Homo sapiens: one gene and its partner. The protein of the gene in region 2 interacts with the protein of the main gene of each other region in a pairwise test. Each region holds a gene or a part of one and is shown on either strand. Other genes may lie near its edges.

Region 1 (3,500 bases), about 17 Mb from region 2:
GTAAAGGTTCCCCAGTTACTTACGAAGATGGGAATCCCCCATTGAGAATATCCACTTTGAACCCACTCATTCTGCATGCTGAGGCTGAGCCTCAGATAAGCAATTGTAAGGTCTCAATCACTGTTATTTTGTAGCAACTTGAAAGGGGAAGGCATTCCTTTTAACTCACTCAAAGCCATTTTAATGTTAAAAGCCACAACATGCTCTGCAAAACAGAAACTGCATTTTGCAGAGCCAATAATTATGGAATTAATCTTCTCAACCTCTCTACAAAGATCCCCAATTATCTTTGCCGCATAAAATCATGATGCTTTCTAGTTCTTTCTTGGGATAGTATCTTAAAAATGCCCCTGGTGACTCCACTACCCATTTGTTGAGAAATGAAAACCCTCTTTTGTATAAAACTCTTTAAAAACTGCACCTCTATTCTCATAATCCACTGATTTCTCTGTTATTAAAATAAATACAGGCTTCATACTTCATATATATGCTTTTTGTACTCCTTTGCCTTGTGTAAACATCTGACTTAGTTCCTGTGCTTTTCATAGACACTCGTGCAATGGCAGGTGGGTAAGTAGGCAAGGGGCAGTGAATTGTGCTGTGCAAAGTGTTACCTACCTGTTAGTCCCCTCAACTGAGATATCTCTACAGCCTCTGGTTTTCCCTGTTCTTTCATAAGTCTGGTCCTCAGCTCCTAGAACATGTTGCCTTCCATTTTCTTCTCCATATTAAAAAAACAACTAGACGTCAAATGACTCTCCCAAACCTGAATTCCAAAATTCTTCCCACTCAAACGTTTTTACAGATTTAATTTTACAATATTGGACATTAACAATGTGGCACCTATTAATGAGAAGGTTGAAATTTTTGTCTCTGTGTGAATATACCCATTAAAGGGCAAATCAATTCTAAATCCAAATTGGCATCAACAATTTTTATGAGTGTGATGACTTGGCAAAATAATCCCACGGCTTAATTTTCTTATTTCTTTTTTTGGAACAGAGTCTCCTTCTGTTGCCCAGGCTGGAGTGCAGTGGCGCAATCTCTGCTCACTGCAGCCTCCACCTCCCAGGTTCCAGCGATTCTCCTGCCTCAGCCTCCCGAGTAGCTGGGACTAGAGGTGCCCGCCACCACACCCAGCTAATTTTTGTATTTTTAGTAGAGGCAGGGTTTCACCATGTTGGCCAGGCGGGTCCCCTTTTATTCTCTTGAGATTTAAATATTAAGTATAAAATTCAGGGCAAAAACTTGGCATCCTGAAAACAGGCTCATTTTTATAAAAGCAACAACAAACCCATAAGACATTTGACTTGAAAAAATATTCACACCGCACCTTTCGAATATAGAATTCAGAGACCTGGTCCACTGTCTTTGGCCCATAGTGGGAAAAACACAAAGGTCAGTGTCAGCAGGGCACTGATCTTGGGCAAATCCAAATCCTGAATTAGGGACACTGGGAATTGGCTGCAGAAAATCACTTTAAAATAAAACAAGCTATGCAAAAGCTGAAAGGTTTCTTTCAGCTACATGTAGTATAACCTTCAGTGTATGACCTACAACTAAATCAGTACAAGTTCTAAAGTATAAGGAAATAGTCAAAAAAGCTAATTCTAGCAGAATCAGAGTTATAAAAATACTGAGCAAAATAAGAAATTATTTCTTCCTTTGAGAAACTCAGCATTAAGATAGTTAAGCCTACATTTCCAATAAACTTTTTCTGGTAGAAACTGCTATTATAATGTATTATTTATATGCTTTATTTCTCAAAAAGTAGGTTCCAGTGTCATATTGCCGGGGTGCACATAAAAGAAAGATGAGAGAACCTACTATACAGTGACCTTTATCTTAATACAATATTACCAGAACCCTGGAGAATTTAGAGTTTTCAAAAAGAATAGAGAGAAATTCATTTTCAAAGCTTGCATCAGTAAATGAAATAAAAACCCCACAAAAATCCCACAACCTTTATAAATGACATCAGTTTTCCTATCAGGTGACACATGTGGATCAATTTACATTTGAATTTGGTGATCAGAAAATATTGAAGTGTGACCTATGATTTGCAACTGCATAGGGTGAGACAGTACAGCTAAAACACTGGGTAGTCATTGCGATGCTGGGATGGAGACAGAATCCAAGACAACCCTTGGTGAGGAAGGGGTTGAGAGAGGAAGAAAGTAAAGGCAGGACGAAAATAGGCAGTCTTATCATAAGAGAACAATGTGTGCCATTTTAACTGCCCAAAGAGCATTTTTTGTCTCAACTTTCAGTGCTTCTTTAATTAAAATGAAGAGATCAACACATAAACAGAAACTAAATCATTCTAAAGAAATTCTAACTTCTTTATCCTATAGGTTTGATTACAATTTGACCTGGTATGCTATTCATCAAAAAAGGTATTAAATGACTGTTACATAGCTCACACGGTGTTGGGAATAGAGGGGAAAAGAAAAAAGAAAACAGTGTCGCTAGCCTCGAAGGGTTCAATGACTAATGGAAGAGACGAGTGGTTTCATATGATATTATTTCATATTATATTTTACATGATTTAATATTATTGCAGTGTGATGTATTACATTATTGCTGTGGGGTAGATCACTAGAAGTGGTGAGGAGCTTAGATTCTGCAGTCAAGCTGCCTGGCTTGGAGTCCTACTTTTTCCTCTTTCCAGCTGTATGGTCTTGGACAAGTTACTTACACTCTGCTGCTTCAGTTTTCTTATCCGTAAAACAGTGCTAATAAAAGTATAATTCTCACAGTGTTATTGTAAAATAAAATGTGTTATAATATACATAAAGCTCTTCACAGTATCAGACAACAGTTACTGTTCTTGTAGTGATGGTGTGTATAGCAGGCCGTGGGAACATACGGAAGGAGTGATACAGTGTGGGAGATATGAGGTAGGACAGACAGAGAGGGGTTTCCAGTTGAGGTGAGATTTAAATGGAGCCTTGAAGTGGTCCAGTAGGATTTAAACAGGGAGCAATGTTGAAAAAGTGTTCCATACTGTGGAACAGCAGTGCAAACACACAGGGAAAAAAAGCCACCAAGAGTTTGAGGGATTTGGAGAGGTTGATGAGTAGAATCTAGGCTACAGCAGGGAAATTAGATTTTACCCTGAAAACTGTCCTGAATGTCTTTGTGCTTGTGCACCTCATTCTCTTTTTTTCTGCAACAGACTTCCTTCCTCCACTATTAATTTCTCTTTACTTCTATTCAATTCTGTGCTTGGATATAGGACATTCATTTTTATTTATGTTTAACTAGGTCATCTATGTACAGAACAATCCGCATTTTATTTCCTATTATTCTTCAGATGAATCTAAATATTTTGGCCCAGTATTCAAGGCCCTTCCATCCACTCTCCACCGACACATATCTGAATTTGCCTCTTACTAGGATAGCATTTTAGTCATATCTAGCTTCCAATTATACCCATCTCCCTCCTCTTTGCAGACTGTATTCATCCCAATCTCTGATTTTGCTCTGGCAGTTTCGTC
Region 2 (5,614 bases):
TTGTTCCAGGGCTCCCACAGGGTCAAGCTGAGGTCTGGCCTCCTGCCTCTCAGCTCCTTCCCTTGCCTCTTCTTGCCTCCCTCACTCCCTCACTCCCTGAGAGCACCTCCTCAATAAACCTGTCCATTCAACCCCAGTCTCAGGCTCTGCTTCCAGGGATGAGGGAAGATGGCTGCATGAGCCATGCCCCTTGCCCTCAGGGGTCTTGCAGGACAGATGGGAGACAGGCCACAGGCAAACGACAGGATCATCCACAACACAGGAGGCACAGGTGGAGAGGACAGGGGTTGAGAAGATGGAAGACGTCATTGAAGTTGGGAAGATGGAGAAAGGTTTCATGGAAGAAGGGGGCTTTATGGGTGATGGACTGGTAGGACTGGGTAGGAGACAAGCTTTCCAGGCAGGGAGAAAGTTCCAAGAAAGGTCCGAGATGGGTAGAAACCTTTGCCCCCATCCCTCCCATTTCCTCTTGTCCAGGGTCCATGACCAGGGACACCATCCCGGGGCAGAGGAGGTGGGGGCTCTGTTTAGATGATTGTAATAATGAGTCTAGCGTCATCTGAGAGCATCAGGTCTTCCCTAGAGGGCCATGCCGGCTGACCCTGAGGCCAGGAGGGAGTCACTCCACTGGCAAGCTTCCCTTGAGAGGCCGGGGCTTGGTCCACCTGAAGAGACCACCTCCATTCGAAGGGACAGAGCGCTCAACATACCTGCCAGACTGTGGGCCTAGGGGCTTGTTCACAAGGATTCAGTGATGTAGTAGGCAGCTCCTAGAGCCCCCAGAGCCACAGCCACAGTTCCGAGGGCTTGGAGGACACGCGTTACGATGACTGGAGGGTTTTCTTGAAGATTTTCTGTAGAGCAAAGCAGAAGTGGGGGTGGTGGGAAGCTGGGCTTCAGTGCCTCTCTACGAACAGGAGAAAGTGGAAATTATGTGGCCCCCTCAGGATTGCAGGAATACCCATCTTCCCCCTCTCCAAACTCCTCTTAGGAGAGCATTTAATTCTTCCCATCCTTCCAACAAGTCCCTACTGAAAGACCCCTGAGGATCGGAGGGTGAGCTGGCCTGGGATGCTAGCTGCCCTGAACACTCAGAAGGGGACCAGGTTAGGAAGGTGGTCAAGTCTGCTGTGAGCCAGGCCTTGTGCTAAATACCTCACACCCAGTGTCTTCTTCCAGCCTCACAACAACCCTATGAGGTAAGTTCTATCACTTCACTCCATTGAGAGAAAGGAACTTGGGAAATAATATATTACACCCACACAAAGGCAAGGAAAACATGACTAAGGCAATAATTGTGAGGAGGGCATTCAAAAAATGCAATACCCGTTTTGATAAAAATCCTACAAAAATAGGGATTCTTGTTTAATGTGAATGTGGATTGAAAGCCAAGAGCCAACATTACACTCCATTGAGAAAAGCATGCCAGTGCTAAAATTGGAGCAGAATTAAAACTACATGTCTTGCCCTGGCCAGATATGGACCCTGTCTCTCCCTGCTCACTTTCCTGATTCTGAGCCTCACGCTTGCCTTTTCCTGCACCCAGATTGCTCCCGCTTTTCATCTTAAGCCAGAGAGGACTTCAAGATCCTTCTGGACTCGGCTCACATGCTGTTGACAGGAACCTTTCAGAGGTTCCTGTTGGAGCCTGTTCCTGTTGGAACCTTTCAGAGGTTCCTGTTGGAGCCTCTCCTAGAGGACACAAGGCTCTTTGCATCTTGCATCTTGGTTTCTAAATGCATGGGTCTTAGCTCTCCATGTCGACTGCAACAATTTTAGGGGTAAAGTTCCCTGTTCTGGTTTCCCTCACAGTGCCCCATGTCCTCTGCATAGTAAGTTTCCCTCAATAACACTTGCTGGTTTTAAAACGATATGAACCCATGGCACGATTTGGCCATGGATGGATGGAAGTACTAAGCGTGTGGGCAGGGTGTGGCTAACGGTGGCAGGCAGACCTTTCCTTGACGGAGCTTACTGGGTGGTGGAGTATTTTTGGCTCCAAGCGTGTTCTCCCCACACGCCCCGGTATCTATTTACTTATCTCCATGTGTAGGAGAGATGGAGTTTTTCAGCTCCAGAAAGGAGAGGGGATTGGGTAGGGAAGAGGCTGGGAAGAGGAACAGGACAAGGATGGGGGTTGGGGGGCCTCAGTTCCTGGGGTGGGGGTGTGAGGTCGCCAAGTGGAAGGGCCTCTTCCATTGAGATCTGTGAGGCCCTCAGGTGGGGCAGATGGCGACCCCTCTCCCAGCCCATGCATGTAACCTAGCAGCGCCCAAACGTGGGAACATCTCCAGTCTGTTCCCTGCATGGATGGGGTCTTCCTATGAGGGCGGTGGCAGCCATGACACTGCTCCTGGTGGCTTTTTGGGAAGAGGAAGGAAGGACAGATACTATGGGTGATGTCATGGGGGCCGCCACCAACAGACCAGCCTGGGGGCAGATGTTCCCTGTGGAGACCCCCAGAAAGAGCCCAGCACAGTCTGAAGGGGGCTGACGTCTTGCTATTGTGTGGAGGAGGCATATGAGTTACAAGTAGTTTTTTATCATTAAATTCTGGGCGACATTCGTAGGCAGATCAGGAACCTAAGGCCCCTGCCTATGACACAGGCCACTGAGGGCCCACGGAGGTGCATGGCCAAACAGTGTTTAAACACAAAGCTCCTGAGCGACTCTGTGAAGGGCTGAGGGGGAGAGTGTTCTGAGGAGGGGAGGGCATCTCTGGAGAAAAGAAAAAGGAAGCCCCTGAGGAGGAATCCCAGTGAGGAAGAAAACTGGCACCTCTCTGTACAGGCGGGGTGGGTACCCCGGGGGTGGGGCCGGTCAGAAAGGGCCCTGCCTGCCAACGTCCAGGAAGTGGGCAAAGCAAAGAGGGAAAGAAAGGCTTTCCTTCGGCCTGGGATTCCCAAGAGGAAGTGATACATGATTGCTAATAAGGTCTGGGGGCAGAGCCTGGCCCTGGGGACTGTGTGCCCCGAGGCTCCAGCCCCTCGCGCTTGGAACCTGTAGAAGGTGAGCAGGTTGGGGAGTCCTCTCCCTGGCGCCATCTGCCAGTCCCGAGGCAGAAGGACATCGAAGATGCGGCTATGGCATAGCCCCAGACGACGCCAGCAAGCGGAGCTGCAGGGGCAAGTGGCACAGGAGCAGGAATGCGGGCCGGCGCGAATCAGAGGCCCTGTGGGGACAGAAGGAGAGAGGTGAGGGAGGCACCTGCCCTGGGAGGCTGGGGCGGGGGAGTCTGGAACACAGTCTGAGAAGGCCCCCCACAACGGCAGCAGCTGCAGGATTACCAGGGCGAACGCTGGATTTTTTCCAAGGCATCATTGAGGATTTGGGACTGAACTACCTAAGGAAGGCAGTTCTCCCACAAAATGTTCTCTAACCAAACAGAAGAGAAGACTGACCGCATGGGAAAATGGCTGTTTTATACTGGTGCTACCTGGGAGTAGCAACAGCGACGACAACAACGATGATGATGATGGAGGTGGTGCTGATGGTGCCATGGCTTACACCTTCAGGATGCTTTGCACTTAGCATGCTCATCTCATTTAATTTCACAGTAATCCTGTAAAGGGGATACTGCTGGTCTTGTTTTACAAATAAGGAAACTGAGGCTCAGCTAATTTAAGGGATATGCCCTTTTGGGGAGTAGATTACAGAAGTTGGCTTTCTCAACTCAGGCTTTCTCACGTTTAATTCAGTGAAAATGGAATTTCAGGTGACTGCTCACCTCAGGAGAGGCTGCACTGACATTCCTGGAATTGGAGCTGCCACGTTCCATTGATCTAGAGCATTCTGATCCATCCAGAAGACAACCACAGCTCTAGTTTCCAGTCCCGATCCTATTTTCTGTTTCTGTCCTCCTCTGGTATGGATCCCAGCAGAATGTAGATGATGCCCTCTGTGGTTGGGCAAGATAATTTCTGGCTGGATTATTCCCTCCTGTTTCCTATCTGTAGCCCTGCGTCTTCTTGACAGAGCTACAGATTCTTCTGACCCTAAGCTGCATGAAACAGGTGGTCAACCTGGCAGATTCAATACACTTTCTGCTTAGACTTGCCCACGACACGTACTTTCCCGGAATGAGGAGAGGGGATTCTAAAGGCAAGACTTGTCTTTTTTTTTAATTACAAAAAAGTTTTTAAATTGAGATATCATTCCCAGGCAATAAAATTCACCCTTTTAGAGTGCTCAGTGGTTTTTAGTATATTCACAAAGTTTTGTGGCCATCACCACTAATTTCAGAACGTCTTCATTTCCCCAAAAAGAAACCCCATCTCCATGAGCAGTTACTCCCCACTCTCCCATTTCCCCCAGTCCCTGGCAATACATTTGCCTATTCTGAACATTTCATGTAAATAGAATCATTCGATGTGTGGGTTTCTGGGAGACTGGATTCTTTCACTTAGCCAAGTGTCTATAAGGTTCATCCAGGCTGTACCATGTATCAGGACACTATCTCTTTTTATTGCCAAATAGTATTTCACCATACTCATTGTACTGTGGTATTTCATACCACATTTTGTTTATCCATTCATCAGCTGATGGACATTTGGGTTGTTCCCACTTTTTGGCTATTACAAATGCTGCTGCTTTGAGCATTTGTGTACAAGTTTTGGTGTGCTTCTAATATGCTTAATAAGATGCTTCGAATTCTCTTGGATGTATACTGAGAAGTGGAATTGCTGGGTCATAAGGTAACTTCATGTTCCTCTGAGGAACCACCAGACTGTTTCCACAGCAGCTGCACCATTTTACATTCCCGCCTACAGTGTATGAGGATTCCAGCTTCTCTACATCCTCACCAACACTTGTTATTGTCCATCCTTCTGATTATACCCATCCTAGTGGAAGACTGGCATTTTCTTGAGCTACAATATTTCTGCACACAAAAAGGCTTGGATTTTAGAAAATGGCACGCTTTACTTGCAGGCCCTCATCCTTCATCTCCAACATTCCTTTCTACGCAGAGAATTCCTTTGGAAGAAGTATAGGGTGTCTGCTGTAACCACTGGCGAGCCACCACCATTTCTTGCTTTCTTGCTTTGCCTGTTCAATGGGCCAAATTCTTCTCTGAGTATGAGTCACATGTGTTCATTAAAAGACTTGGGAATGGAAAGTCTTGCTTTCTACCAGTACTGAAGATGCCAGTTCTGAAGATCATAACCCAGAAATGTTTCTCTCACTGGCTGATGATCACAATCTTTACAACATATAGTATGGTGCTCAAAATCAATATCATATGTCAAGAAAGGTTTGATTCCTGGCCATGGAAGGATCATTGGCATGGCATGCCTTATATTTAGCACTCTCATCTCCATCACTTATTTATTTTATGCCCACACAATCCCGGGGGGTAAACTGTGGCCCAGGGAGTGTGGCCTGTTCAAGGCTATGGAGTCGTGGGCACTGGCTCATGGCAGATCCAGGAGATGCTCGGACAGAGATGTTCTTCCTCTTGTGGAGACTCCTAGGCCTCTTGGAATGGAAAGGTCAGTGCTGTGGTTTAAAGTGAGGGTTCTGGAGTCAGAATAGAGTGGGTTTCCCTTCTCAGGGCTACCAGCGTCTGCTCAGGAGCAACCTGTTTGACTCCTATGAGCCTCAGTTTCCCCATCTA

Evidence for each region. Proteins that work in one complex are often made in the same cells at the same time.
Region 1: the proteins of SPATA3 (region 2) and VWC2L interact in a two-hybrid assay, tested with the Homo sapiens proteins (one large-scale study listed by BioGRID).

Annotation. Positions count from the first base shown.
Region 1 is NC_000002.12:214,417,554-214,421,053, reverse strand, and holds part of VWC2L (von Willebrand factor C domain-containing protein 2-like isoform 1 precursor), read right to left. Parts: intron 1-3,500.
Region 2 is NC_000002.12:230,997,924-231,003,537, reverse strand, and holds part of SPATA3 (spermatogenesis-associated protein 3), read right to left. Parts: intron 3,173-5,614; coding exon 3,001-3,172; intron 908-3,000; coding exon of another isoform or gene 855-907; coding exon 749-854; coding exon of another isoform or gene 739-748; 3' UTR 711-738; intron 1-710.